Linked DNA regions of Homo sapiens: regions 1, 2, 3, 4, 6 and 7 are each linked to region 5. The links come from fine-mapping of genetic effects on gene expression. A gene starts in region 5. Each other region holds a variant in brackets. All regions are shown on one strand. Distances are from middle to middle. Region 1 overlaps LINC01983 (long intergenic non-protein coding RNA 1983). Region 2 has its middle 69 kb from the start of TNK2. Region 3 has its middle 13 kb from the start of TFRC. Region 4 overlaps LOC124909478 (a long non-coding RNA gene). Region 5 holds the start of MUC4 (mucin 4, cell surface associated). Region 6 has its middle 84 kb from the start of TNK2. Region 7 overlaps XXYLT1 (xyloside xylosyltransferase 1).

Evidence for each region.
Region 1: its variant is fine-mapped to the expression of MUC4 in esophagus mucosa (GTEx, PIP above 0.99).
Region 2: its variant is fine-mapped to the expression of MUC4 in cerebellar hemisphere (GTEx, PIP above 0.99). The same link has a PIP of 0.9 or more in anterior cingulate cortex, liver and sun-exposed skin.
Region 3: its variant is fine-mapped to the expression of MUC4 in putamen (GTEx, PIP 0.97).
Region 4: its variant is fine-mapped to the expression of MUC4 in thyroid (GTEx, PIP above 0.99).
Region 6: its variant is fine-mapped to the expression of MUC4 in tibial nerve (GTEx, PIP above 0.99). The same link has a PIP of 0.9 or more in cerebral cortex, hypothalamus, kidney cortex, nucleus accumbens and pituitary.
Region 7: its variant is fine-mapped to the expression of MUC4 in prefrontal cortex (GTEx, PIP 0.96).

The regions. Positions count from the first base shown.
Region 1 is chr3:195,833,321-195,837,386 of GRCh38, forward strand. It overlaps LINC01983 (long intergenic non-protein coding RNA 1983), which reads right to left. Exons shown (of 2, transcript NR_134939.1): 2 at 3,135-3,295. Among named protein-coding and RNA genes, the nearest start is that of MUC4, 23 kb to the left of the region's middle. RefSeq lists a silencer at 684-884. The variant T/C (reference allele first, on the strand shown) is at 2,230.
Region 2 is chr3:195,975,929-195,979,994 of GRCh38, forward strand. It overlaps the pseudogene SDHAP1. Among named protein-coding and RNA genes, the nearest start is that of TNK2, 69 kb to the left of the region's middle. The variant C/T (reference allele first, on the strand shown) is at 1,937.
Region 3 is chr3:196,093,476-196,097,541 of GRCh38, forward strand. No RefSeq gene overlaps it. Among named protein-coding and RNA genes, the nearest start is that of TFRC, 13 kb to the left of the region's middle. RefSeq lists an enhancer at 3,435-3,484. The variant C/T (reference allele first, on the strand shown) is at 2,543.
Region 4 is chr3:196,025,343-196,029,408 of GRCh38, forward strand. It overlaps LOC124909478 (a long non-coding RNA gene), which reads right to left. Exons shown (of 5, transcript XR_007096234.1): 2 at 1,795-1,918. Among named protein-coding and RNA genes, the nearest start is that of TFRC, 55 kb to the right of the region's middle. The variant A/G (reference allele first, on the strand shown) is at 1,951.
Region 5 is chr3:195,809,463-195,813,528 of GRCh38, forward strand. It overlaps MUC4 (mucin 4, cell surface associated), which reads right to left and starts at 2,467. Exons shown (of 25, transcript NM_018406.7): 1 at 2,274-2,467. The coding sequence starts at 2,355. RefSeq lists enhancers at 1-163, 164-727.
Region 6 is chr3:195,990,288-195,994,349 of GRCh38, forward strand. No RefSeq gene overlaps it. Among named protein-coding and RNA genes, the nearest start is that of TNK2, 84 kb to the left of the region's middle. RefSeq lists a silencer at 1-204. The variant G/T (reference allele first, on the strand shown) is at 1,541.
Region 7 is chr3:195,184,889-195,188,954 of GRCh38, forward strand. The region is part of intron 2 of XXYLT1 (xyloside xylosyltransferase 1); the gene reads right to left. Among named protein-coding and RNA genes, the nearest start is that of XXYLT1-AS2, 39 kb to the left of the region's middle. RefSeq lists enhancers at 1-549, 2,772-3,287. The variant T/C (reference allele first, on the strand shown) is at 1,888.

The DNA.
Region 1 (4,066 bases), 24 kb after region 5:
CGACTTTAGCTGGCAGTGAGAGGCTGGCAGAGGGATGCCTGACCAGGGGCCAGTGGAGGAGGGTGAGGTTAGCCAGGCAGAGGCTGGCACCACTGCTGTGGGCCGAGGATGGCCTGTGCTAAGGCCCTGAGGTAGAGAGACACTTTGCCCATCCTAGGATCTGAAAGAAGTCCAGGGGGATTGGAGCAGAGGGAGCGGGATGAGTGAGGTGGGCTTACACAGCGGGGGATTAGGGCAGAGGGAGCGGGATGACTGAGCTGGGCTTACACAGCGGGGGATTGGGGCAGAGGGAGTGGGATGAGTGAGCTGGGCTTACACAGAGGGGGATTGGAGCAGAGGGAGCAGGATGAGTGAGGTGGGCTTACACAGGGGGAGATTGGAGCAGAGGGAGCGGGATGAGTGTGGTGGGCTTACACGGGGGGGATTGGGGCAGAGGGAGTGGGATGACTGAGCTGGGCTTACACAGCGGGGGATTGGGCAGAGGGAGTGGGATGAGTGAGCTGGGCTTACACGGGGGGATTGGGGCAGCAGGAGTGGGATGAGTGAGCTGGGCTTACACGGGGGGATTGGGGCAGAGGGAGCGGGATGAGTGAGGTGGGCTTACACAGCGGGGCAGGAGGCAGGTTCTTTGGGTTTCCGAGCTCTGTGAGCATCAGAATGTCCTGAGGAAGCTGATTTCAGTGCAGGCTCTGGGGCCGGCCATGCCCTCCCTGGAGCCTCAGTCTGTGAGTCTTCCCTGGGACCTGTTTCCCCAAGTGGTGCCGAGGCAAATGGCCGGATGACGACATTTCAAGGGTGTTATTGGCCATCTGAAGGATCTGGGACTTTCCCTTTTTTTTTTTTTTTTTTTGAGACGGAGTCTTGCTCTGTGGCCTAGGCTGGAATGCAGTGGTGCGATCTCAGCTCACTGCAGCCTCCACCTCCTGGGTTCAAGCAATTCTCTGTCTCAGCCTTCCGAATAGCTGGGATTACAGGCACATGCCACCACACCCAGCTAATTTTTTGTGTTTTTAGTAGAGACAGGGTTTCGCCATGTTGGCCAGGCTGGTCTTGAACTCCTGACCTCATGATCCACCTGCCTCGACCTCCCAAAGTGCTGGGATTACAGGTGTGAGCCACCTCACCCGGCTGAATCTGGGACTTTTTCTAAGAAAGCAGAAGCCATTGCGACCAAAACCATTCAGCAGACAGGATTTGAACCCAGCTCGGTCTGATTCCAAAACCAGAAGGACACCATGTCTTCCTTAAAGGAAGAAGGCACATCAGACCATCTGTCAAGTGGGTCCACTGAGGGTCAGAGGAAGAGCCTCCAGATGAGGGAACGGTGTCAGCAAAGCCAGAGCCCACATGGGACGAGGCGGCCCCAGAGCCGATGGCCTGAGCAGAGCCAGTCGTGTGTGTTATGGGTTTTCGCCTTAGCAGAGGCCTCACAGGCTCCCTCCCCACGTGTGTCTGCATCCGAATCTCATTTTCGCTTTGCAATACCACTGTGAGAAGAGCCTGCTGGGAGGTTCTTCCCCTTTCCCAGATGGATACACTGAGGCTCATGCAGGTGACACCATTTACCCGATGACCTATGTAAAGTCAGAAAATGTGCCGGGGGTGCTGGGGCCCCGGGAGGAGGTTGAGCTGGACTCGCCACTGGGCAGCCAAGGAGGCTGGGTGGTCCTGGCACACACAGAGGTCATGGGGCAGCATGGCCCCTGCTGTCGTCGACCACTTGGAGACTGGAGGACTTGGCCTTTGGATTTGGATAGAGGAGCCCTCTGTCATGGGTGCTGTTCAGTTCGGGGAGGTCACGGAGGTCCCCAAATGGGGATGGTCTCACTGCCGTGCCGCCTTTGCTGGCTCCTCCCCACCCTGCGACTCAGTTTCCTCGTCTGTGAAATGAGGTTGAGCTAGTTGGTCACTACCCAGTTCAGCTCTGACACTGTCGGACTCTGAGTCTGCCTGGGTGGGTCTCTGATTCCGCATGGGTGGGTCTCTGATTCCGCATGGGTGGGTCTCTGATTCCAGAGGATGCTGGCACAATGAGAGTTTTGGGGCTGGGACCGAGGTGATCGGGTGCCAAGAGGAACAAGGAAGTAAGGGGATGTTTCAAATACAGTTTCATTCCGGGTTGCTCTGAGAACTGAGTGGGGAACAGGCCCTGACGGCATCCAGGGACAGGGCCAGGACGTGTGGGGGTTAGGGGGGTGCAGGGAGTGGCAGGCCTGTCCCAGCTCCGTC[T/C]ACTAGCAGAAGAATGGGCAGCCGTGAGCTCAGGTGCGCCAGGCAGGGGAAATGGAATCGGCCGTCATGGATGTCCTGGCAGAAGTGGAGGCCGAGGAGGTCCTCTAGAAAGGGGTCTCACCCTTCTCCACAGGCCCACAAGGAGCCTCTTTCTCCTTTCACACCCAGGACGGGCCAGCAGGACCAGAGCAGTGGCCATTGAAAGTAACGTCCAAACAGGAAGATAAGGCCCAGGAGGCTCTGAGTCCCGGGTTCCCAGAGCTTTCCTGCCGCCACCCAGAAGCCCAGCAGGGCCCTCACTGGCAGCTGGCCCTTCCTCCCCAAGAGCCAGAGCTCAGACGGAGGCTCTCCCAGGGATGGCCTCCACCAGGGCTGCAGCAGAGCCTCGGCCATCTCTCAGCCCTCCCGGACAGGGAACCCCCTCCTCCCGGTTGGTTCTCCTGGGGTGAGCTTGCATGGCAGCCTGCTTCCTCCCACCTCCTGTTCCCTACACCGTCCCCACCACCGCCCTCCCGCATCAGGCCCCTGTCCTGCCTGCCCGTGCCTGATCGCCTGTACCCCGATCCATCGCTCTTCTTCTCCTCACTTCTCTCCTCCCTCGTGCACCTCTGGCCCCTGCCCATTGCTGAGATGGTTGACCCCTTTGGCCCTCAGCAAATTTAACATTCAGGAAAGGTCCACATTTCATAAATCCCTGTAATTCTAGGGTTGGGAGATGCTCCATCGAAGGTCACTTTGGCCCATCCCGGCAGCCCAGGATTGAGGTCTCCACCTTGCCCCAGACACAGCCAGCCCCTCAGAAACCAATGCCTACCAGCCAGACCCACGGGAGGACAACCGATGTACAAACCAGAAGGCCGGTGTATTAATTTAAAATGGAAAGCAGAACTCCCAAGCTGGCTGAATGCTTCATTTGCAGGTTGATTTATTCTCCCCTGTGTGGGTCTGTCAGTCTTCCATGGAGGCTGATGGAGGCTGTCCCTTTGCAAGGATTGTGTCTGGTGACGGGGCTGCCCCTTCACAGCTTCTGGATAGCTGAAGACTCAAATTGGAAAGCTTGACGAGCCTAGAAACAGGATTAGGGGAGAGGAGGGTGTGAGACTGCATTTCCCAAAACAGAGCATTCTTGCATGAACAGCTTTCCAAAAAAAGAAAAAAAAAAAAGACACCGTGGATAATGAAGCTTGCAGAAGGCTGCGCTCACCCGCTTCTGGAAATTCGCACTGTGCATCGGCCTCATCAAAGCTCTGAAACAAACACCACCTTACAGGAAGTTTTCCAAACTGACCTGACCACGAAGTGTTTTCCCTCACCCTCCCTAATACTGTCCGACGGGCAAGGCCAGGCTACTGCCAGGAATGATTTCCCAGGCCTCTCTGAGGTGGGGAGGTGGGGAGCTGGGTCCCCGTGTCCAAGGCCCCTGCCCTCCCACCAGGCTTTTTCCTGGGAGCAGCCTCCCAGGATGCCCCCTTCTTGTTCTCCTTTGACCGGCTTTTCAGGTACATCCTTTCTCGATCCATGTCACTGATGCTGCCTAGGCACTGAGGGCCTGCTCCACCCTGATGTCAGCCGGGGAGGCCTTTCTGTGCAACAGAAATACCACACCAGCAACACAGGGACAAAAGGAACAGGTTACAGGGATTAAACACAAAAACATAAACTGTGGGTGCCCTGAACTAATAAAGGAGCAGATGTCCTCAAGGGATTTAGACACAGAGGCATGGACCTGGGCTGAGTTTTGGGGTGAGGTGTGGGGAAACCAGAATTGCTCCAGTTTATAGAGTGGCCAAGATCTGCAGGGTCAGGGATGATCTGGGAGGGAGGGGTGAGGAGAGCC
Region 2 (4,066 bases), 170 kb after region 5:
GCAGAGAATGGCAACGGCAGCAGACCTGAGAATACGTCATCTTGGAAGCGTGTGAGTTGCAACATGTTTTGATACTGAGGAAAATTTCCCCTCATGTACGGCCACCCTCCCATCAAATCTTTTCTAAGCATCTACTGTGTGCCAGGGACAATCCTAGGTGCTGGGACACAGCTGAGAACCAGAACAAATACTCTGCCCTTACTGAACTCACACTCGTCTCAGGGATCACAGCCTGCAGCGGCTGTCCTTGGTAAAAGCATTAGGCCTCTATGCCAAATAGTCGTCCCTGCGTATCCGTGGCAGGTTGGGTCCAGGACCCCCACGGACACCAAAATCCGTGGATGCTCAAGTCCCTAATATAAAATGGCAGAGTATTTGCATATAACCTATGCACATCCTCCTCCATATTTTAAATCATCCTCATTTCAAGTTTTACATTTAAGTTGTACAGCAACTCCAGGATTACTCATAGTACCTAATACAATGTAAATGCAGGTAAATAGCTGCTACACTGTGTTGCTTAGCGAACAATGACAAGGAAAAAAAAAAGTCTGCGTGTTTGTAAGGATGCAATTTTATTTTCAGTACATAGTTGGTTGAAACCACACATGTGGAACCGATGGATACGGAGGGCCACCATATTCCAAAAAACCATCCGACTTCTTTTTTTTTTAATATAAAAATGTAAAACCTCTAAAGGCCACACCAGATACCAGCAGATATTTAGCAAGTGTTATCACATTAAAGAACAGGGTCAGGCAATGAAAGAGCTGCAAACTGTTCTTCTGAAAGGCAAATGACCCACACACTTTGAAAGCTGTCGAAAAACATCTGTGGGTATCAGACACCACACCCAAGGCTCACACGCCGACTTCAGGTTGGGTGCGTGTCTCTCTCTTCCATACTCCGTCACATACTCACACACACTAAGAGAAACTCTGTTCCACAGATTTGAGAAAGAAACTGGCTAAAATTTTCAAAATGTAGGTCTTTAGGAAAATATCGCAGACTAACAGATGCCTGCCGGCAGCTGAGAGAGGTGGCTGTGCACATGTGCCTGCACACGAAGGTGAGGGCGAGTGGTGCTGAAACTCACAGAAGCAACCCCGGCCCGTGTGCCCGCTCAGACAGTGCTGGTGGTAAACCACACGCACCTTCCTTCGCGGATCTCCAGAGTCATCCACCGAGACACCACATCTCTAGACGCCAGGTCCTTCGCGATGGGGGCGTATCGCTCCATAAACCTTTCGCCTTGACTGTTAATGAGAATGCCTCCCTCTCCACGACATCCTTCCGTAATGAGACAACCAGCACCATATGTGCCTGCAAAAAACCACACATTTATAACCTAACAATTGCTGGGTCTCTATTTCAAATGCATTACTTTTTTTTACAAGATATTTTTTGGGGGAGAGACAAAAAAGATATGCAGAAGGCATTATATGCAAAACTGAACAGAAAGAACAGTTAAGATACAGTAGAAAGTCTGGATAACAAAAAGCACTGACAAGGCTGACAGCTGCAGCAGAGGCTGGGGCAGAGTGGCGTCCCCAGAGAGGAGAAAGGCCGGCCCACAGACCTCTGGCCAATACTCTGATTACAGCCCGGTGTACGTTGGATGCCTCAAATTTTGTTTTAATTTTTGAACATTCTTTTGCGCTACGATACTGTGGTGACTAGTTAAGAATACTAGCTTGGAGAATTCATATCTAAGTTACCCAAACAGTGGCAAGGACAGTAATAATGATTATTTTAGTTCATCTTTACACTGCACTTGCTATGGGCAGTTCTAGCTGCTTTCCACATATTAAACTCATTTAAGTCTTACAACAACTCTGGGTAGTACGACCCCCTTTCTCAGTGACAAGCAAATTAACGCTTGGTAACATCCAGTCATGCAGCTGAGGACAGAGCTCAAACCCAAACCTGGGCAGTC[C/T]GGCGGTCTGTGCCCCAAACAGCGGCTCTGTGACTCCTCAGTGCGATGAGAAACAGGGCGTGCCAAGCTCTCGAATTTTAACAAAGGAGATCAAAAACCCTAAACTAAATGTATTTCAAAAGCTACAATTTTTATTAGTATACAAAAAGGGCAATCTTGCTTTCAAAACAAGAATGTGATTCTTGCATCTCACCTGCCTTTTGATTTTCTAAGTTTCCATGCTCTCTTTTCTGTGGTTACTTCTCACATATTGAAGACAAAGCATGAGAAGTGGAGCTCTAAGCAAATTACAGAGGGAATTCAGGGGCTCACTGACATTTTACTGATTAAAAACAGTAATAAAAAATACAACAGGCCGGGTGCAGTGGCTCATGGCTATAATGCCAGCACCCTGAGGGGCCGAGGCAGGAGGATCGCCTAAGCCCTGGCGTTTGAGACCAGCCTGGGCTTAAAATGGTGACACCCTGTCTCTACCAAAAACAAAAAAACCCTCAAAAATTAGCTGGGCATGCTAACACATGCCTGTAGTCCCAGCTATTTGGGAGGCTGAGGTGGAAGGATCGTTTGAGCCTGGGAGACAAAGGCTGCAGTGAGTCGAGATTGCTCCACTGCACTCCAGCCTGGGCAACAGAGCAAGACCCCATCTCTAAACAAATTAAAAAAAAAAACCTACAACAAATCCATTTCTTATTTTCATCCCTTCCAGGGATCAGAAAGCTGACACTGACAGAGAAAGAAAAGACACAGGTCTGGTTCTTTGGCACCACTTCAGGGGTCTCCATCGTCCACAGGTCAGAAAAGCAACCCAGAAAAGTCCAGGACGAGTCACCTCAAACAAGAGGCAGACGTGTGTGTGTCTGTCTCTGACTCATTTTGAAGAACCTCCTCCAAACTCAAGACTTCAACTGTCATTTCTGAGTTAATGTCTCCAAATTGCACATTCGTAACCTCAACCGTCAGACGTCCCCAAGACAAGCTCATCTTCCCCACGACAAGCTCCCTCAGTGGTCACGGGGGCTGAGCCCAGCGCCCAACGTCACATGGGGTTCTCTCATGGCTGTGTCTTAACTTTACATCCCATTGTCACGGAAGCTCTGTGTTGTCCTACAAAGCTGAAATCTGCCTGTGCTGCTTCTTGGTTCCACAGCATTCACCCAGCTCTCAGAATGCTCACTCAGTAAACCCCGATGGAGACCCTACCATGTGCTGGGCGTGGAGCACCCCAGTTAATGAGAAGACCTGCCTGCCCGAATTGCTGACGACCTCACTGCAAAGAGGGACACTGAACAATTCCTGCTTTACTTTTTTTTTTTTTTTTTTTTCAGACGAAGTCTTACTCTGTTGCCCAGGCTGGAGCGCAGTGGTGCGATCTCGGCTCACTGCAACCTCTGCCTCCCAGGTTCAAGCATTCCTCCCGCCTCAGCCTCCCAAGTAGCTGGGATCACAGGTGCATGCCACCATGCCCAGCTGATTTTTTTATGTTTAGTAGAGATGAGGTTTCACCATGTTGCGCAGGCTGGTCTTGAACTCCTGACCTCAGGTGATCCACCTGCCTTGGCCTCCCAAAGTGCTGGGATTACAGGCGTGAGCCACCATGCCCGGCCTCAATCCCTGCTTTACTGCTGGCATAAGTATCACCAAGGCAGGGTTTAGGGCTCTTGAGAAATGCATAAGATGGTGGCCCAAACTGCCTTAGAGGAAGGGGAGTGTGGGAAAAGTCTCCTTAAGGAAATGACATTGAAGTTAGGACCTGAGAGCTAAGGAAGCTGATCTTCAAAACCATGTTATTACATAAAACTATGGAAGAGCAATGAGTAGGCACCACACGCTTACAAGACACACGAGCCGAACGCTTTCCGGGCAAGGCGTCCTGCCCTACCTGTGGGGTGGAACTGAACAAACTCGAGGTCCTGGCAAGGAAGGCCTGCCCTGGTGATCATGGCCGTGCCGTCGCTGGTGCTGGTGTGGGCAGACGTGCAGCTCAAGTAGTTGCGCCAGTAGCCTATGGAAACAACAGAGAGCAGTGACTGCACACAGTGGCCCACGTCCGGACCTCCTGTCTAATGAGATCACAGAACGGACAGGGCAGCCCCCGGGCACCATCTTCTCAGTGCTGTGTGCACACAACCC
Region 3 (4,066 bases), 280 kb after region 5:
GGCTGGGACCTTAAGCAATAATACTTCTGATAAACTGTGCGCCAGATGGCCAAACATTGCCTAAAAAAAATGACTAAGAAAGAGGCCTTTGAAAAGAACATTGTGAAGTGGGGATGACTGATGATGTAAATAGGAAAAATGAACAAATGTGTGAAGAAAACATTTGCAAACAGACGTCTACATCTAAATCCCAAGTCAGCAAATCTAGTATTCAGGAAAAATACCAAATAGGCAGAAACTTTTTGGTTTCTTCAGCTTTAATATACACAGTAGACAAATTTTCCTTTGGTTTGGAAAATGTTCCTGCCAAAACTTGTATTTCTTATACATGGAAATGTGGTCAAGGAGGCAGCTGTACAGTGGTTACATTTGTGAGAGCTGGAGTGGCTTCCCTTGGTTCATCTCACACAATCCCCTAAGTGGTAGGAAGACCCGTATCCCAGGGCTGGGGTGCCCAGGTGTCAGAGTGCGGTAACGTTCGCTGAGCACCTATGGTGTCCAGGTACTGAGCTGGGAACTTATATTTGTATCATCTTACTTTGGCCCCCAACAATTCTGTGAAACAGGTATCATACCTATTTTATAGATGAATAAGTAGAAGTGTGAAGAATATAAAAGGATTGGCTGAAAGTGGCACAGCTTTTAAATAGCAAGACCCTAACTTCAGATCTCTGTGATTTCTGTTTTTTTTTTTTTTTTTTAAATAAATGTTAAGAGATATAGCAATGGGGATCTCACCATGTTGTCCAGGCTGGTCTCAAACTCCTGGGCTCAAGCAATCCTCCCTCCTTAGCCTCCCAAAGTACTGGGATTACAGGTGTGAGCCACCATGCCTGGCCAGGTTTCTGTATTAAAACCACTTTTTACTATATCTCAGGTATGGAAATATGAAAACACTGTTGTAGCAGGCGGGTAGTTGAAGCTCTGCACTCAGGGTAGGCTGACGTACTGCCAGGCTCTGACCAGGACCTTACAACAATACCCATCCTTGGAAGGTTTGAGTCAACTTTATAGCTGAATTTGATGCCAGGAGCACAAAGCAAAAGATCCCCATATATAAAGACAAGGTTATAAGGTACAGTGTGCCTGGTACAACTATCTTCCAGAATGCTTCCCAGAAGTAACATAGCTGGGCACCCTGGCACATGTTTATACTCTCAGCTACTTGGAGGTGCTGAGGCAGGAGGATCATTTGAGCCCAGGAGTCAGAGGCCAGCCTGAGCAACATGCTACGAAGGGGGGCAGGCTTCTCTGATAAGGTCGAGCCCAAGTAGGCAATGAGAGCAGAGAATTCCAAAGGGAGAGACAGTTCTGGGCCCGTGAGCCAATCCTGCTAGCCAGGTCCCCTCCAACCCCCTATTCCAGGCAGACCACTTCTGTGTCAAGGTCTGAAATCCAGCCTTGACTTTATTTTATTTATGTATTTTTTGAGACAGCTCTGCTGTACAGGCCAGAATGCAGTGACATGACCATAGCTCACTGTAACCTCAAGCGATCCTCCTGCCTCAGCCTCCCAAGTAGCTGGAACTACAGGCATGTGCCATCACACCTGTCAAATTTTAATTTTTTTTTGTAGAGATGGAGTCTCACTGTGTTGCCCCGGCTATTTTTGAACCCCTGAGATCAAGGGATCCTCCAGCCTTGGCCTCCCAAAGTGCTGGGATTACAAGCGTGAGCCACCACGCTGGGCTAATTTTTAATTTTTTTTTGTAGAGACAAAGTCTCACTATATTGCCCAGGCTATTCTTGAACTCCTAAGCTCAAAGGATCTTCCAGCCTCCTCGGCCTCCCAAAGTGCTGGGATTACAGGTGAGAGCCAGCATGCCTGGCTCTAGCCTTGGCTTTATTAAGGTACAGGCAGGTTTTCCTGCAGGTAGTAAGATGAATAAAGGTTAGATTGGTTTTGAGATCCAGATAGAGGCTAGACTCTAGCCTAGCGCTTCTTTTTTTTTTTTTTTTTTTGAGACGGAGTCTTGCCCTGTCTCCCAGGCTGGAGTGCAGTGGCGTGATCTCTGCTCAGTGCAACCTCCGCCTCCTGGGTTCACGCAATTCTCCTGCCCCAGCCTCCCGAGTAGCTGGGATTACAGGCACATGCCTCCACACCCGGCTAATTTTTGCATTTTTAGTAGAGACGGGGTTTCACCATGTTGGACAGGCTGGTCTCGAACTTCTGACCTCATGATCACCTCAGCCTCCCAAAGTGCTAGGATTACAGGCATGAGCCACCACACCCAGCCTAGCCTAGTGCTTCTTAAACATTCATGTGAGCTCCATGCAGTGTCACATCTATAATCCCAGCACTTTGGAGGCCAAGGCAGGAGGATTGCTTGAGCCCAGGAGTCCAAGGCTACTCTGAGCTATGATTGTGCCACTGCAGCTAAGCCTTGACTACAGAGTGAGACCTTGTTTCTTAAAAATATATATATTCATATACATATATTATTTATTTTCATTTATTATTTATTTATTTATTTTTGAGAGAGAAAGAGACGAAGTTTCACTCTTGTTGCCCAGGCTGGAGTGCAGTGGCGCAATCTCAGCT[C/T]ACTGCAACCTCCACCTCCCGGGTTCCAGTGATTCTCCTGCCTCAGCCTCCTGAGTAGCTGGGACTACAGGCACCCACCACCACGCCCGGCTAATTTTTGTATTTTTTGTAGAGAAGGGGTTTCACCATGTTGGCCAGGCTGATCTCTAACTCCTTACCTCAAGTGATCCACCTACCTCAACCTCCCAAAGTGCTGGGATTACAGGTGTGAGCCACCATACCCAGCCCTTGAAAATATTTTTTTAAAGAAACTTTAATGTGCAGATAAGTCCCATGGAGGGGACGTGTTAAAATGCAGATTCTGATTCAGAAGGTCTGGTGGGGGTCCAAGACGGTGTTTCTAACAAGCTCCTAACTGATACCCAGGCTGCTGCTGGTCTTAGACCAACCCTTGAGTAGACTTTAGAGGAAGAAGTTTTTATTAGCTGTTTCTACAACACTCCCCACAGAAAGGGCACCCTGTGTGGCCAGCTGGCATGAAAGCGGTTTCTGCTTGGCAGCTATTTTTAGGTAGCTGTAATGCATTCTATTTTTTGCATTCTAAGCTTTTCAGTGGACCAGGGCGATCCCTGGGGCTGTCCCAGCTTCAGCAACGGTCCCTAAGACCATTCAGCTACTTTGCAGCCACTGCACAACTGCCAAACAATCCACTAATCCTGATCTTGAAACAATTTTCCCTCCTGAGAAGACACCAGACCTCAGCAGGAAGACTTGGCCTGCACAGCAGTTCTCTTACCCCACACGAATTAATAAATAGGCCTCATGAATCGGGATTTTGTGCCCTTGGGTAGCGAATTACCTGATGACTCTGGTGAACTGACGAAACTGAGTTTGTGAAACTGTGAGCCGGAAGAACAGTCTACAGCTGTCGTGGACTCCCCTGAACCCCTGGGAAGACGCAGCTCAACAGCCAGTCCACACGAACCCTGCTCTGAAACCTCTCCTGCAGACTGGGCCTGGGCTAGAGAAGAACAGGAGTTTTCTTTTCTCCTTTTTTTTGAGACGGAGTTTTGCTCTTGTTGCCCAGGCTGGAGTGCAGTGGCATGATCGTGGCTCACTGCAACCTCTGCCTCCTGGGTTCAAGTGATTCTCCTGCCTCAGCCTCTGGAGTAGCTGGGATTACAGGCGTGCACCACCACGCCCAACTAATTTTTGTAATTTTAGTAGAGATGGGGTTTCACCGTTTTGGTCAGGCTGGTCTCAAACTCCTGACTTCGAGTGATCCACCCGCCTCGGCCTCCCAAAGTGCTGGGATTACAGAGATGAGCCACCGCGCCAAGCTGTGAATTGATTTTTTAGTGAAACTTCAGGGAGCCAAGGACTTTGGCCCCCACAGTACCATCTGGATTATTGGGAACAGGTGCAAAATATATAGGGCCAGCGAAAACTCTCAAAGGAATGATTGACATTATAAATTTAGAGAGGAAGGACTGCCTTCCTTTCTGTGACAACAGCACTTTAATGTTCCAAAACAGGATGTCCTTGGATTTGGTTTTAATGCTTATGTATATAAGGTTAGCTATT
Region 4 (4,066 bases), 220 kb after region 5:
GCCAATGGGAAATCAAAACGAAGATACTGGAGAGATGTTCCCAGAAAAGGAGCATTCCTAATGGGCTTGGCCCTAGTCACATGCAATTCCCCAGATGTGGTTGGTGTGGCCAAGGTTCCAGCATTTGTCAGCTGCTTTCTTGCCACTTCTTGTGCTGTGAGGAGTATCCCCTCCCCAATGCCAGAGGCAGTCGTCCTCTAACCCCCTTCAGAGTAAAGGGCCAGCAATTGGCAGTCACAGGAAAAGTAGTGAGACAGGAAGGTGCGGAGCATGAAGTCCCACCATACCGGCCTCCAGTGTCTGGCACAGAATATGACGAGGAACCTCCGTGAATTGGAATCTTCCACATCTTGATATATGGGAGTTTCTGCTAGATATAATTTGACTTAAAAAAGAAAGAAATATGACCTTCTTCACCTAAATATTGTAGAAGAGGTAATGATTGCAACCTGGATGTTTTACATTCTGAGATGCTATTAAACCAATATTCATCACAAATGTATTGATAATTTTTTAGAAGAACAGAAGAGATCCCATCATATTAAATGAAGTGTATCAATTATAAGATGCATGCTAACTCCAGAAAAAGCAAAGCATGAAAAAAATCTGTCTTAGAATGGAAAAATACAGTAGTTAAACTATTTTTAACTGGAATTTAAATGCAACATTTTAGGATATGAAGCTGTCAACTCATTTTGAAAACTGCTGGCTCAGATGACCTCAGCGATAGGAAACCTCTAAAAGATCATGAATCTAATCAGGTAATTTTCTGTGCCTTTGCCTGAGAGTCTAGCTGAAAGTGGTGCAGTTTTTACAGAAGAGGAATAACGTGTCCCGAACTGGGAACCCTTCACCGGCCACCACTCCAGGCGGCGCTTCACTGTGGAGTTTTGGTCGCCAGAGGGCTCCAGGGGACTGCTGGGGAAGGCCAGGACATGGAAGAGGGCCTAGAGCCAGGGTTACCCGGGAGGGGGTGGACCCATTTTGCCAAGCACCTGAGGACCATACCGTACAGGATCCTCTCAAAACCACCCGCACACTAGGTGGGAATAAAGGATAAGAGAAATTAATGTGTGCTTAGCATGTGAGAGCTGACATTCAGAGTCAGCCTGAGCAAAGAGATTCATACGGAAGGACGAAGCGCATGTTGTGAGACAAAGAACACCCAATTATAAGATAGAAAACCTTGGTTCTGGGAAATTCCTGAACCTGTTTGCCCATCCATGAAAGAGTAAGAGTGATACTACCTTCTCCACCTTATTCTTGTAACAGAACTGCCCGTTTCTTTCGTGCCCACAGCTAAGTGTTTAATAGGAACAATGTGACAAATATAAGGTCATTGCTCTTACACAAAAGGTTCAAGAAAACTGAGAAAGATCTAAAAATTCCCAAAGGAATGATTTTTCAAAGTACAACATCTTAATTTACATAGAGAGAAATAATACATTTTGTCTCAAATAAAGATTTGGCCACATCCTAAGTATAGCATTGAAGAGCAGTTAAGCTATTTCTTCAAAGAAAATATATCAAAATTAAACCTGTACTTTTTGAGTGTGAATTCTAACACACAAACCTGGTGCAATATATTTAAAACAAAGCAGAGATTAATTAATTAATTAATGATTCCCCATCACCATTTTCAGAAAACCCAGTAACTTAGTGCCTTAAGATGTTCAAATCATCCCAAAAACTTGAGTTACTAAATATTTTCAAAACCCTTTCTCAAGCTTTGCTATTCTAGCTTTAGTTGGAAGAAGAAGCTTCCAAGTTAAAGATGGTAGACGAAATACTGACCCAGTTGTGTCCTTTCCCTCCTGAGAAACCATGGTGGCTATCCACGATGGAGAGAGAGCAGCGGAGACAAAAAGTGATTTGATGGCCTCGCATCCGTGAGAAGGAGCATCATCTGTGGACCTTCCTGGGGGTGAGGGGCAGAGAAGTGAGGCAGGC[A/G]TCAGAAAACAGGAGGGTCGATTAAAATCTGTACATTGACAGTCAACCCTCATTATCCTCCCTCACCGATGCCAGCACCCCACCCCTCGGGTAACCAGTGAGTAGAACACCAACAACCAACAAGCAAGCAGCTGCCTTCCAGAGAGGAGAGGAGAAGGTTTTCTCCAGAGGAAGGAAACCATCCAGACCAAAGGCATCACTTACTAACATGCGGAAACCCCATCGACTCCCCGAAGCAAAACCTCTAGACGAGCCTTTCACTAATGATAACACACTCATTCTCCTTCACGTGTTACTATTAAATGTGAACAGTGAAGAATCACCACCTAGACGAGCCTTTCACTAATGATAACACACTCATTCTCCTTCATGTGTTACTATTAAATGTGAACAGTGAAGAATCACCACCTAGACGAGCCTTTCACTAATGATAACACAGACTCATTCTCCTTCTTCACGTGTCACTATTAAATGTGAACAGTGAAGAATCACCATCTAGACGAGCCTTTCACTAATGATAACACAGACTCATTCTCCTTCTTCACGTGTCACTATTAAATGTGAACAGTGAAGAATCACCATCTAGACGAGCCTTTCACTAATGATAACACAGACTCATTCTCCTTCATGTGTTACTATTAAATGTGAACAGTGAAGAATCACCACCTAGACGAGCCTTTCACTAATGATAACACAGACTCATTCTCCTTCATGTGTTACTATTAAATGTGAACAATGAAGAATCACCATCTAGACAAGCCTTTCACTAATGATAACACAGACTCATTCTCCTTCTTCACGTGTCACTATTAAATGTGAACAGTGAAGAATCACCATCTAGACGAGCCTTTCACTAATGATAACACAGACTCATTCTCCTTCTTCACGTGTCACTATTAAATGTGAACAATGAAGAATCACCAGACATTGAAGGGAAACCCATCTCAATGGGAAAAAAGACCAAGGTAAACCAGCAGGCGGAATGATTGTTGAGAACCTAACATCATAGCAAAATAAGAAATAAGAGTTTTATATTATCATTCACTTAGTGGCACTGTCTGAGGTTTCACTATACAAATATATTGCTTTGATATGTGTGTGTATATATACATACATATATATATATATATATATATATATATTTTTTTTTTTTTCTGAGTCTCGCTTTGTTGCCCAGACTGGAGTACAGTGGTGTAATCTTGGTTCACTGCAACCAAGGTCTCCCGGGTTCAAGCGATTCTCCTGCCAATTTTCATCTTTTAAGTGGAGACAGGGTTTTGCCATGTTGGCCAGGCTGGTCTCAAACTTCTGACCTCAGGTGATCTGCCCGCCTTGACCTCCCAAAGTGCTGGGATTATAGGCATGATAGAGTTTTAACTATTAGAAGAAACCAGAGGAAGCTACCATTGGAATAGATGAAACATCAGCAATACATTAAAATATCAGCAATTTCACATGTTCGAGATTACTTTTAAAAAATAAAAAGAGAACAGAATTGATTTAGTTTCTAGGCCAGCAACCAAGGAAAAAGCAAGGAATGGAAGATTTTATAATCGCATAACAATAGCAAGATCTTACATTTCTATTGAGCTTTAAAGATTACAGGCCAGGCACGGTGGCTCACGCCTGTAATCCCAGCACTTTGGGAGGCTGAGGTGGGCGGATCACAAGGTCAGGAGTTCAAGACCAGCGACCAGCCTGGTCAATATGGTGAAACCCTGTCTCTACTAAAAATACAAAAATTAGCTGGGCGTGGTGGCGGGTGCCTGTAGTCCCAGCTAGTCGGGGGGCTGAGGTGGGAGAATCGCTTGAACCCAGGAGGCAGAGGTTGCAGTGAGCTGAGATTGTGCCATTGCACTCCAGCCTGGGTGACAGAGCAAGACTCTGTCTCCTAAATAAATACATAAATAAAAATACAAAAATTAGCAGGGCGGGGTGGCACACGCCTCTAATCCCAGCTACTCGGGAGGCCGAGACATGAGAATCTCTTGAACCTAGGAGGCAGAGGTTGCAGTGAGCCAAGATTGTACCACTGCACTCCATCCTGGGCAACAGATTGAGACGCTGTCTCAAAAAAAAAAAAAAGAAAGAAAGAAAGTAGAAAAACTTCAAATAA
Region 5 (4,066 bases):
CAAGGCCCTGGTCATGCCCGGTCAGATGTGTGGGTGCCATCTCCCAGCCACGACCATCTCCTCTCCTGGCCCAGCTCCACTTGGTCCCCTTAGCGACGCAAAGGACTCAGCGCTCCACGACATGCCTAGCTTCTTCGGGTCGTCATGGAGACGCCCTTGCACACCAACAGTCCTTCACTCCTTCTCCGGGTCACGCCCCCGTGCTTTTCCACGCCCACCCCAGGTCTTGCCCCTCTGCGCTCCTCTCCACAGACCCCACTTCCTGGCTCCACATGGAGCTGAGTGTCCAGCTGGTACCCAGCACATTTGGGCTCAGCTTTAAATCACAGATTTGGAAACTCAAGAACTTGGGCGTCAGGAGGTCCAACCGTTCACCACTGCTTTTTACACAGGGGACCGGGGCCCTGGGGAGACACGGGGCAGGGCCTGGTCACAGGGGCCAGAACAGTTCACGGCAAAGACTTGGCCCTGGGGCTCCTAAATCCAAGCTGCCTCCCCGGCGCCCCAAGCCCCAGCCTCGCTCTGGGAGTCATGATTCCCGTGGAGACTCCTTCAACCACATCTGCAGGGCAGGGCCGTGTGGCGGCTCCTTCCGGCCTCCACGTCCTCACGGTGGGATGAGCACTGGAGCGGGGTTGTGTGGCCAGGGTGGGGTGGGGGTGCTGGAGGGTGGGGAGGTGTAGGGAGGTGGTGGCAGTTTCCTTTGCCCTCAGCCTAGTCCTGAAACATCCCGAGGTGGAAGGGTCCGCTTCACCAGCATGGCTTCTCTTGCAGCCTTTAAACGGCACTCGCCTTCTGACTCACTCCCAGGAAGCTCCTCAAATATGCGCCCAAGAAATATTTTCCCTCGGCGACTGTTCTTAGCCTGCTGAGAGGCAGGGCAGGAGCTGAGACTCTAACCCCAGCTTGAACTCTGGACCCCAGACTCTCCCCCAAAGACTCAGACACCCAGAAACACAGAATAAAACTTGGTCCTGAAGCCAGAGGGACAGCCTGGAAAGTGTGGGGAAGAGGACGGGGGCCCCCGAGGGAACATCTCCCACAGGCCTGGCATCCCTCCCCTCCCAGCTCTGTACACGGAGGAGCCCAAGGCCAATGCCGGGGCTACGAGCCCCAGGCAAGGCCGTGACCCAAATGGAGGCTTTTAAACCCGAGCTCAGAGGTAAGAAGCCCACGGCCAGCACCTCCCGGCCCTCTGCGCCCTGGCCGCCTCCTCCGCACCACCCTCCCGGCCGGCCTGCCCCTCTCCTCCTTGTCGCTTCCCTTGCTTGCTGCTGTCTCCCGATCTTCTCCTCTCTCCATTCCCAGGGTCCTCAGTTTGTCTGCGTCTCACCTGTCTCGTCCTCTCACCCTGCAGCTTTACATGAGTTTTCTTCCGTCTCCATCACCCAGCTTTCCTGGCATCCCCTCTACCCCCAGCTCTGTACACAAGGGTGTACATCTTTCTCCTTGACTCTGTTCCTCTTGCTCTGGCTCTGCCTGTCTTTCTCTCTGCGAGTAAGCCTGGGCTCTCACCATGGATCCTTCCAGACATCGCCGGGCTGCTCTCTGGCCCTCTGTTCTCTTTTCTCTCTCTTTCGAGCATTCTCCCTCTGTCTTTCCCCTCAGATCTTGTCCCGTATCTGCCAGTTCATGCCTCCTCTTCCCCACTTTTCTCCTCTTCTTATTTTTTATTTTATTTTATATTTATTTATTTATTTATTTATTTATTTATTTATTTATTTATTTTGAGACAGAGTCTCGCTCTCTCTCCCAGGCTGGAGTGCAGTGGCGCGATCTTGGCTCACTGCAACCTCCACCTCCCAGGTTCAAGTGATTCTCCTGCCTCAGACTCCTGAGTAGCTGGAATTACAGGTGGGGCCCACCACGACCGGCTAATTTTTGTATATTTAGTAGAGACGGGGTTTCACCATGTCGGCCAGGCTGGTCTCGAACTCCTGACCTCAGGTGATCTCCTGCCTTGGCCTCCGAAAGTGCTGGGATTACAGGCATGAGCCACCGCGCACGGCCTCCACTCTTCTTTCTCTCTCCCTCTTCTCTTCCTCTTCTTTCCCTCTCTGGGTCTCTCTCCACCTTCCCCCCATGTTGTCCCATTCATCTCTTTCTCCTTTCCCTCTCCCTCTTTTTCTCTCCCTTCTCTTCCTCTTCGCTGTCTCCCTTTCCCCTATTCTCTCTCTCTCTCTCTCTGTCTCCCCGGACCTCTTTCTCTGACAGCTCCCACCTCCCCCAAGTGCTCCCCGCAGCCAGCCTCATCTGCTGTCTCCATCACTTACCTGGGACCACATGCGGAAGGAGGCAGAGACACAGGCAGCTCAGGGACACCCAGGGGACCCTCCTCCAGCGTGCCCCCTTCATGGCTGCGGCAAAAGTCCCCCTGGCTCCCTGGGGAAGCTCCACGGCCCAGCAGCTGCAGTGTGAGGAGCAGACGTGAGCCCGTCCCCTCAGGCGGCTGGCCCGAACCAAGTGCGTTTCTCCGAAGGGGCCAGGGAACCTGGGAAGAGGACAAAAGAGGGCGGGGCCCCACGCTAATCACCCTTTTCTCTCCTCAGCCCCACCCCACTACCCCACCAGGAAAGAAAACACCGATACACCCGTTGCTCTGCTTCTCATCAGCCTGAGCTGAGTGGCGGGAGGGATGGGAGGAGACATGGGGGAATGGGAACAGGTCACACTGGAAATGGGTGGGCCACCCTCCTAGCCGGGTTCCTGGGTCCTCTCCTCCCTCCCCAGGGGCTGCCCCTGTCCCACCAGAGCTTTGGGCTGCTGGGAAGAATGGGGAAGAAAGGGCCCCAGAGGGAGCGACCTTGGGGCTGTATGAATGGGGGAAAGAGAGTGAGACTTAAGCAGACCCCAAGGAATTGGGAAGCGGGGAACCATGTGGGTGAGGGGCAGGAACAGAAATGCACTGTATGCCGTCTTTTGGAAAGGGGTGGTGTGCTTGGAATATCTGCTCAGTGCAGGCGCGTGGCAGACCCCAGACGCGTGGCAGACCCCAGACGCGTGGCAGACCCCAGACGCGTGGCAGAACCTCAGTGCAGATGCGTGGCAGACCCCAGACGCACGGCAGATCCCAGACACATGGCAGACCCCAGACCCATGGCAGACTCCAGACGCGTGGCAGACCCCAGACGCGTGGCAGACTCCAGACGCATGGCAGAACCTCAGTGCAGACTCGTGGCAGAACCTCAGTGCAGACGCATGGCAGACCCCAGATGCGTGGCAGACCCTCACCAGATGGTGGACTTCTTCTTTCCAGGGCAGGGAGCTGGAGCCAGGGTGCAGGGAGCCAGGGACAGTCTGGGAGACTGGCCTGAGGGAGCTGGCATGGGCAGTGGGTTGAAGGCAGAACCTCGGTAGGAGGAAGCGACTGTAACCTGTGAGGAGGTGGAGCTGCTCCTGGAGACCTGGGGGCTCTGCTCACCCCAGTTCCACCTCTTGGAACTCACAGGCACAAGCGAGGAGGGAAAGGGACCCCAAGTAGGGTTGTAAAGACGAAGAGGGCAGTTGGTGTAGCTCTCTGCAAAGGAAAACGGGGATACCTCCGCTCCCCTCTTTGCCACAGTGTGAATCTCTGCTTCTGATTCCTCAAGACTTGATTCCCGAATGTGGGGTGTCTGTGGGGTGACTCGTCCCAGAGCAGGGACCTTCGATGCTCAGACACTGTGGGGCCCAGGACAAGGACTCAGGGTTTCTGCATTCCCAAGCAGAGCCAGCCTTGTCCAGCAAGGAGTAGGCAACCGACGCTGTGGCGCTGTCTCCGAGGGTCACGGAGGCCCTGTGACCACTTGCTTCTAGAAGCTGAAAGTCTGTTCATGGCCCCAGGCCAAAGCCTGGGCCACGCCATAATAATGCGGATACCGTGGGGAAGTGGCGTGGTCCCCCAACAGTCCCTCCAGCTCTGGGTGGACGAGCTGACCCTGTTCTTTCCTGGAGGTAAGAAAATCATAAAGGTAAAGAGTCATGTGGAGCATCCTGTGGGCGCCTGGACGGGGCAGCAGGAGGGACCTACTGCAGGGAATTCGCAGACACCAAGGCCCAGCTTGGCCTTCGTGATCATTTTGCACTT
Region 6 (4,062 bases), 180 kb after region 5:
AGTCCCTGCGCAGACTGCGCCTGCGCACCACGGCCGGGTCAAGGCGGGGCGCTAGTGGGGGACATTGCGCCTGCGCACCACGCGACGCCCGGGCCGGGGTCTAATGGGCGGGGACGCCGCGCCTGCGCAAAGCGGACCCGCGGACCGTGGCGCTGGGTGGCCACGGAGGTCCCGCGCTCCCCGACCGAGATAGGGCGGGCCCTATTTCGGGGAGATGTTGGGCACCAACTTTTTTTAAAGCCCCGTGGGTGGTTCTCCGGGATCTCCCAGACCGAGAGGGCCTGAACGTCCAGACCTCAGGGAATGGGGTCGAAGGGGCGGCGCTCGTCCGCGGAGGTGGGCGGGAGCGGCCCGGGGCCTCCGGCCTCTAGGGAGCGGGAGTGACCCTCGGTTTCTGGCCTCCGAGGGGCGGGAGCGATCCTCAGCCATGTCCCTAGCCTCTGGCTTCCGGCTGATTTTTAAATTTTTGGTAGAGGCGGGAATCTTGCTCTGTTGCCCAGGCTGGTCTCGAACTTGTGGCCTCAAGCGATCCTCCCTCCTCGGTCTCCCGAAGTGCGGGGATTACAGACAGAGCCACTGCGCACGGCCGTGGTCAGCTTTGAAAGCTGGGTAGATCCCTTTGGCTCATACGCCTTTCTGCTAGCTTACCCTGATTCTGCTTCTGGTTCAGATAGTATTTTAATATTTCTAGTGTGTCTTTTTGTAAGATACCTGAAATCTTTTTGTGGAATGAAGTGGCATGAAAAATAAACCAATAATCATTAGTAATTATGTTTCCTGCCTTTTCACTTTATTAAAATCTTCGTCTTGTGCATCATGTTTAACAATTTTGAGTTATTTTAGTAAATTTGCAAGGGTTCGGTCCCATTTTATTGATATTTGGGTTGTTTCCTATTTTTGCTCTTAATAACACCGTACAGAACATATTTGTGACCATAACTTTCTCTTTAGGATTATTTTTTTTAGATGTATGCCCCAGACGTGGCCTTTATTGGCTTGCAGGGAATGAACATCATACCTCCTAGACTTATTTTTTTAAAGTTATGCTGTTTTAGTCCTGGGTTAGTTACCTAATTTTGTTTGGTTTGAGACGGAGTTTCGCTCTTGTTGCCCAGGCTGGAGTGGAATGGCGGGATCTCGGCTCACCGCAACGTCTGCCTCCAGGGTTCAAGAGATTCTCCCGCGGAGCTTACAGTGAGCGGAGATGGCGCCACTTCACTCCAGCCTGGGCAACAGAGCAAGACTATATTGCTTTAATTTACTCTGCCGGCTATCTGGAGAGATGCAACCTCATCAGCAGAAATTATTTCCACCTGCTGCTTTTTAAATGTTATTTCCTATAGCCAGGTACTGAGCCCTTCAATTGAGGTCTAAACCCTCCACCCTCTCCCTCCGGGATTGCCAAGCCTGTGGTTTCAGTTCCATGCTCCCAGGTAGATTATGTCAACTCAAAGTCAATGCGCTTATGAAATACTTTTTGTGGTTTTTTTCTTAATTTTAAGAGGTTTTTTTTTTAAATATGTTTTTGTTTCATGGAGGC[G/T]ACACCCTCTGTCTCTGAGTTGTGGGAGCCTTCCTCCTTCAGTCTGCATGTACTGAAGCCACTGTTTGCCGTACAGCCCCTCAGCCGCAGCAGCCCACAGTGAGGTGCAGGTGCTCACGCCATCGCCCCAGAGAGCTCCTCCATTCGCCCCTCCACCCGTAGCCCCTCGAAACCACTGCCCTGCTCCCCGACACGGTACACTGTCTTCTCCAAGATGTCATGTGTTGGCATCCTTCGGCCTGTGGCCACCGAAACTAGCTTCCTTCACCGGGCATGTAGCCTGGGAGACCTGGGGCATTTGGGTGCATCTTTCCACTGCTGGTTGGTGTCCCCTATGTGGAAGCATCCGCGTTGGTTCACGCCTTCTCCTGCTCCTGCCGATGGACATTTTGTTTTCTTCCAGTTATTGGCAATGAGGAATGAGGCCTAAACACTTGTGTGCAGGTTTGTGTGTGCACGTTTAAGTTTTCCCTTGGGGGACATTTCAGCAGTGGGGTTGCTGGATGACATGGTAAGGATGTGCTTAACTTCTTAAGAAACTCCCGGACCACTTTCCAGCATGGCGGGACCCCTCCCATTCCCACTGCAGCTTATGAGGGTCCCAGTTCCTCTGCATCATCACTAGAACCTGGGTTGGCCCATGGGTTTTGTCTGTTTTTAGCCATTTTAATGGATTTGCAGAGGTACTGCTGACTGGCATTTCTCCAGCATCTCTATGATGTTGAGCCTCTTTCTCGGGCAATATGCCCTCCTTATACCTTCTTTCATGAGGCCTCCATTCCAATATTGGCCCTCTCTTTAATACTGGGGTTTTTACTTTCTTATGGTTAAGTTTTGATGGTTCTTCATATATCCTGCGTGCCAGTAGGTTGTGAGACGTGTGATTCACAAATGTTTATTTCTAGACCATAGTTTGTGTTTCATTCTCTTTGGATTTTTATATTGCTTTATAGAATTATAATTTTAAATTTATGACTACATTTAATTTGTCAATCTTATGAATCATGCTTTTGGTGTCATGTCTAAGAACTTTTCGCCTAACCCCAGGCCATACGAATTTTCCCCTGTGTTTTTACCTAAGGGTTTGATAGCGTTAGGTTCTCCATTTAGGCCTTTAATAAATGTTGTGTAACATTTTGTGACCGCCATGGCCATACCTTTCTCCATCTCTCACGGTATCGTGGGCATTTGCAGCTCCCAGTGCGCCGTGCTGTTCCCGTCTTCTTGGTCTGCTCCTCCTGTCATACCTTTCTCCGTCTCTCACAGTATCGTGGGCGTTTGCAGCTCCCAGTGCCCCGTGCTGTTCCTGGCTTCTTGGTCCGCTCTTCCTGTGAGTTCCAGGGCACGTCTTAGTGCTGGCACTGTCCTGGTCCATCGGGGGTCCCATGAGCTTCTCCATGTGGGAAGGTTGGGACTGTGATGTTGACGGGATGCCCTGTGAGTCAGGAGGAGGTGCTGACGGGGGTTTCCATGTAGGAGAGAGAGGTGTTTGGTATTCCGGATGGGGCAGACTTGAGAGGGGACAAACTTGAGAAATGCCACCAATGAGAAGTGCAGGCACAGCAGGTCTCGGGGCTGCCCAGCCGTGTGGGAGCCAAACGTGGATGTGTCAGTGGCCACACCAGGAGGTAAACCCTCAACCAAGGGCCTCTGGGTGTCCAAGACCAAGTCTTGCTCAAGAGGTGTGTTCAGCTGAGCCAACCATGGCAGAAATGCATAAGGGAGATCCCACGGTTCCTCTGTTTAAATCCCCTGCTAATCCCACCAGACTCAGAGAAGCAGCCAAGTCCTCACAGCAGCCTGCAACCCCCGCCTGACTCGGCCTCCTCTTGGCTCTGATTCTCTGTACCCTTCTATCCCTGTCTCTTCTTCCATCAGAGAGGAGATCCGGCACGTTTATCCTGGTGGATTCAAACCCATCTTTGCCCCATATATAGTCACCGGAATGAATAGGTATAATCTAGAAAGAGTCCTTTTGAAAAAGAAAAAAGCAGGCCGGGCATGGTGGCTCATGCCTATAACCCTGCAGGGACCAGCCCCACAGGGTCGGTGGGTCTCTCCCTGTGTGCGGCGATGAGAGAGTGTAGAAATAAAGACACAAGACAAAGAGATAAGAGAAAGGGCAGCTGGGCCCGGGGGACCACTACCACCAATGCACGGAGAACAGTAGTGCCCCGAATGTCTGGCTGCGCTGTTATTTATTGGATACAAGGCAGAAGGGGCAGGGTAAAGAATGTGAGTCACCTCCAATGATAGGTAAGGTCACGTGGGTCACGTGTCCACTGGACAGGGGGCCCTTCCCTGCCTGGCAGCCGAGGCAGAGAGGGAGAGGAGACAGAGAGAAAGACAGCTTATGCCATTATTTCCGCATATCAGGGACTATTAGTATTTTTACTAATTTACTACTGCTATCTAGAAGGCAGAGCCAGGTGTACAGGATGAAACATGAAGGCGGACTAGGAGCGTGACCACTGAAGCACAGCATCACAGGGAGACGGTTAGGCCTCCGGATAACTGCAGGC
Region 7 (4,066 bases), 620 kb before region 5:
CCCCGCATCATCAATCATCCTTTCAGTTTCGTTTGATCAAATGTTGGGCATTTATACAGCTCATTTTACAAACCATACAAATCAGAAGGTAGAAGTCAGGAGGGCCTGGCACCCCTCATGCCTGCCCTCTTGCAGAGCAGTGACAGCTCCACAAATGACCTCACTCCCATTAAAGAAAAAAGGAAGGAAAGAAGGAAGAAGGAAGGAAGGAAGGAAGGAAGGAAGGAAGGAAGGAAGGAAGGAAGGAAGGAAGGAAGGAAGGAAAAAAGAAAAAGAAAAGGAAAGGAAAGGGGAAGGAACAGAGGGTGCTGGAGAATAGGGAAGAAAGGTCTGTTCTGGGAAACAGAACAGTAGGGGTTTTGGAATGCTCAGTGTCTTAGAACTTAGACTAAAGACTGGAAACACCAGCTCAGGGAATATTCCATCGTGGTCATCTGATTGCTGGAACATGAAACTTGGAGCACATCTGCAGTGAAATGGGGGAGGAATAAAGATACTGAAAGGACATTCTCCAGAACCATGAGGACAGAGAGACTTCAGCAGAAAATAGGCCACTAGTATTTTGGGGTCCTGCTTCAGGAGCAAAACTTTGGTCCAGAGAGGTTTAGGGCTGGGTTTTTTTTTTTTTTTTTTTCACTTTGATTTCTGAGGTCACTGAAGGACCATGGGTAATAAGGTCAATTTGTGCTGATTTATAAAAATCAGCCTTCTGACTTCAGAGCTGTGGCACACATTATTTTAGACTCTGAGGTCATGTTAGTCACAGGTGTTGGGCTGGCCTGGCCTGAGGAGCAGGTCGACACACCCTCTGGGCGCTGAGGGACACAATGGGGACGGCATCTTCACTTTCTTCCTTCCGGTCCTTCCTGAGTGCTTGCAAGTGAGCCCAACCCTTACTTCTCTAAAAGAGGCTCACACCCCATCTACATACCTGGACACTCCCTCTCCTTGCACAACAAGACCAGAGGCCTCTCCCTTCCCTTTCCCACCTCTCTTCAGTCACTTTCACTCAGACCTTTCTTTTCCTGTGAAGGCTTCCTGCTCCCTTGGCCCTCAAGCTCTGAAGACCAGTCCACAGCTTTCTGGCTCTAGGGTCCCTGCAACACCTACCACGAGCTCTCAACCTCCCCTCTCACCTAAGAAGTCCAGGCCACTGTGCTCCTAAGTGCCTGGACCGCCTCCTCAGCTGCCTTCTGCTACATGATCAAGTTTCCCCAGAACTTTTGAAAGCCACCACAGAGCTGCTCCCAGACATGTCATTCCCCTCTTCAAAACCTTCCATTGCTGGTTCCCTCACCACAACCCAACAACTGGAACTCTTCGTTGAGCTTCACTGTGCTCTCCAGGGATCCTCAAGTCCAGACCATTCTTTCAGGTCCATCCCACAGAAGAACGCATGCAAAAGTACTTAAGTCACTGGATGAAAATGCAAACCATATTACTCCATTGGTTAAAATGCCACCAGTGGTTGCAAATCCCACTGTCCCCAGGATAAAGTCCCCAATCCCTCGCACAGCTTTCAAGGCCCTGAATAGCCTGACCGGGGTGTGCTCCAGGCAGCTAAGGCTTCAGCTTCTGGGGCACATCAAGCTCCTTCCACCCACAAAGCTTTTCCACTCAATATGCTCTCGGCCTCACTCTTCTTCCTCCGTGTCTTGGCCTGGCTAAGTCCCACCCACTTGTCTCACCTTAAATGTCACTGTCTGGAGGAAGTCTTTAGTAACAATCCCCCCCCACACACCCTGAATCCCCCACTCGGGCAGCACCTGGACTTCCCCTTCGTTGCCCTTATTGCAGCTGTTCCCATTATCTGCTTAATGTCTATCTTCACTGTACATTCCATGAGGACAGAGACCGACCCCATCTGTTTTTCTAACCCCCATGTCC[T/C]TAGCACCTAGGCAAGATCTGGCTCACAGGTGAAACTGAATAAATCTTTGCTGAGTGAGTGAAGTGCTGGTGATAACCTCTCCACGGACCTGGGCCCTCTAACCCACAACACTGGCTGAAGTTTTTTTTTTTTTTTTGAAACAGACTCTTGCTCTGTCACCCAGGCTAGAGTGCAGTGGCGCGATCTCGGCTCACCGCAACCTCCACCTCCTGGGTTCAAGTGATTCTCCTGCCTCAGCCTCCTGAATAGCTGGGATTACAGGTGCCCACCACCGTGCCCAGCTAATTTTTATATTTTTAATAGAGACGGGAATTAGCCAGGCGTGGTGGCGGGCGCCTGTAGTCCCAGCTACTCGGGAGGCTGAGGCAGGAGAATGACTTGAACCCGGGAGACGGAGCTTGCAGTGAGCAGAGATCCCACCACTGCACTCCAGCCTGGGCCGCAGAGCAAGACTCCATCTCAAAAAAAAAAAAAAAAGATAGAGACGGGGTTTCACCATATTTGTCTCGAACTCCTGACCTCGTGATCCACCCGCCTTGGCCTCCCAAAGTGCTGGGATTAAAGGCGTGAGCCACCATGCCCGGCCAGCTGAAGCTTTGCTTCTCACTCCTCCCAACTGTCTCTTCTGTGTCCCTTCTCTTGATACCAGCCTCCACTGTTATTATTAATATTCATTCAATTTTTTTTCTGAAAATTCCAATTTATCTGTATAGTGCTATGAGGAGCCCTAAGAATACAGTCAATCAATCAGACAGGCAATCTCTTCCTAATAACTTGTCCTAGTGTTTACTGGAGCGACTGAAGAGCTGAAACATACAGAAGGGGAAAGAAATGGGATTCCACCCCTGGACATTATTCCTTTAAGCTTCTTTGATTTTAATTGCTTTGCATGCACATTGAGGTAGAGTCCCAGTTGATTGAAACTTTTTTCATTTGCAGCTAGAAGTGAATGATTCAGGCTGCATTCCACCGAACATGCTCTTAATATTATGGAAAGACCCGGGGCTGAGGACATGCCTGGACATGATTAACAAAGTTGTGCATTTGTAAATTAGATGATTTCCAGGAAATATTTAAAACCTCCCTTTCTTCCTAAACACTTCAAAGAGGTGTCCTTGTTTATTTTCAACCTTTTACCCCCAACCTTTTTTTTAAAAAAGTAAATCCCTCCTCTCTCACAAAGTCTCTACAAAAGAAAGCCACTGTGATATGAAATCCATCCAAAGACATGAGTTCAACTAACGTCTCAACGAGCTTGCTTGGCTCTATATTTAGATGTGAGAGTAAACATCTGACTCTGGAGAAGGACTCATCCCAGAGACACCACTCCTGAACAGGAAAAAAGTCTAGGGGATGGAATTAAATTAGTTTAGCTCCCAAAAGAATAGTTAATAGAAACAGTCTCTAACCAGCTAACCACAAATATAGGATTTGCTCTTTACTCCTTGGAGAAGAAAATCCAGGGAGTGAGGCTGAAACAATCCTCTGTGCTGCCCAGAGGTAGGGCTCAAACACGGGACCAAATTGAGGACTGGCTAAAACAGGTCTGGAGTGGGAACAGCTTTCCATAAGACACACCCACTAATGTGCCATGTCAGTTTAGCATTGCCATGGCAACAACCTGACAACCAGAAGTTACCACCCTCATCCTAGAAATTTCTGCATAAACTGACCCTTAATTTGCATATAATTAAAATGGTATAAATATGAGTGCAGAATTGCTGCTGAGCTGATACTCTAGGCATGCTGAGTGCTCTAGGTACTCCTCAAGGAGCAGTACCTCTGCTGCTGCTGTGTACTGGCCATTTCAATCAAAGTCGCTGCTTAACACACTGGTGCACTCTCGAATTGTCTCCTATGAGGAGCCAAGAACCCTCTTGGGCTAAGCCTCAATTTTGGGGCTTGCTTGTCCTGCATCATAACTGCTAGCTCCCATATCTGTCCACTGGGTGGTATCTCAGAATCAGAGACTCTCAAGGTTGAATGGCAACATTTCTTCCAATTTCCACACCACTGCTCCATTTCCCTCCACAGCCAACTTTGTGTAAACATTAAGCACTTACACAAAAATTTTGTGACAACATGACAGAGATGCAGAACCAGGAGGTGCAGCCTCATACAGTAACATCCGATGGCTATGGGTTTAAGCTCGGCGCTAGCTTTCACCAGGTGTGTGAT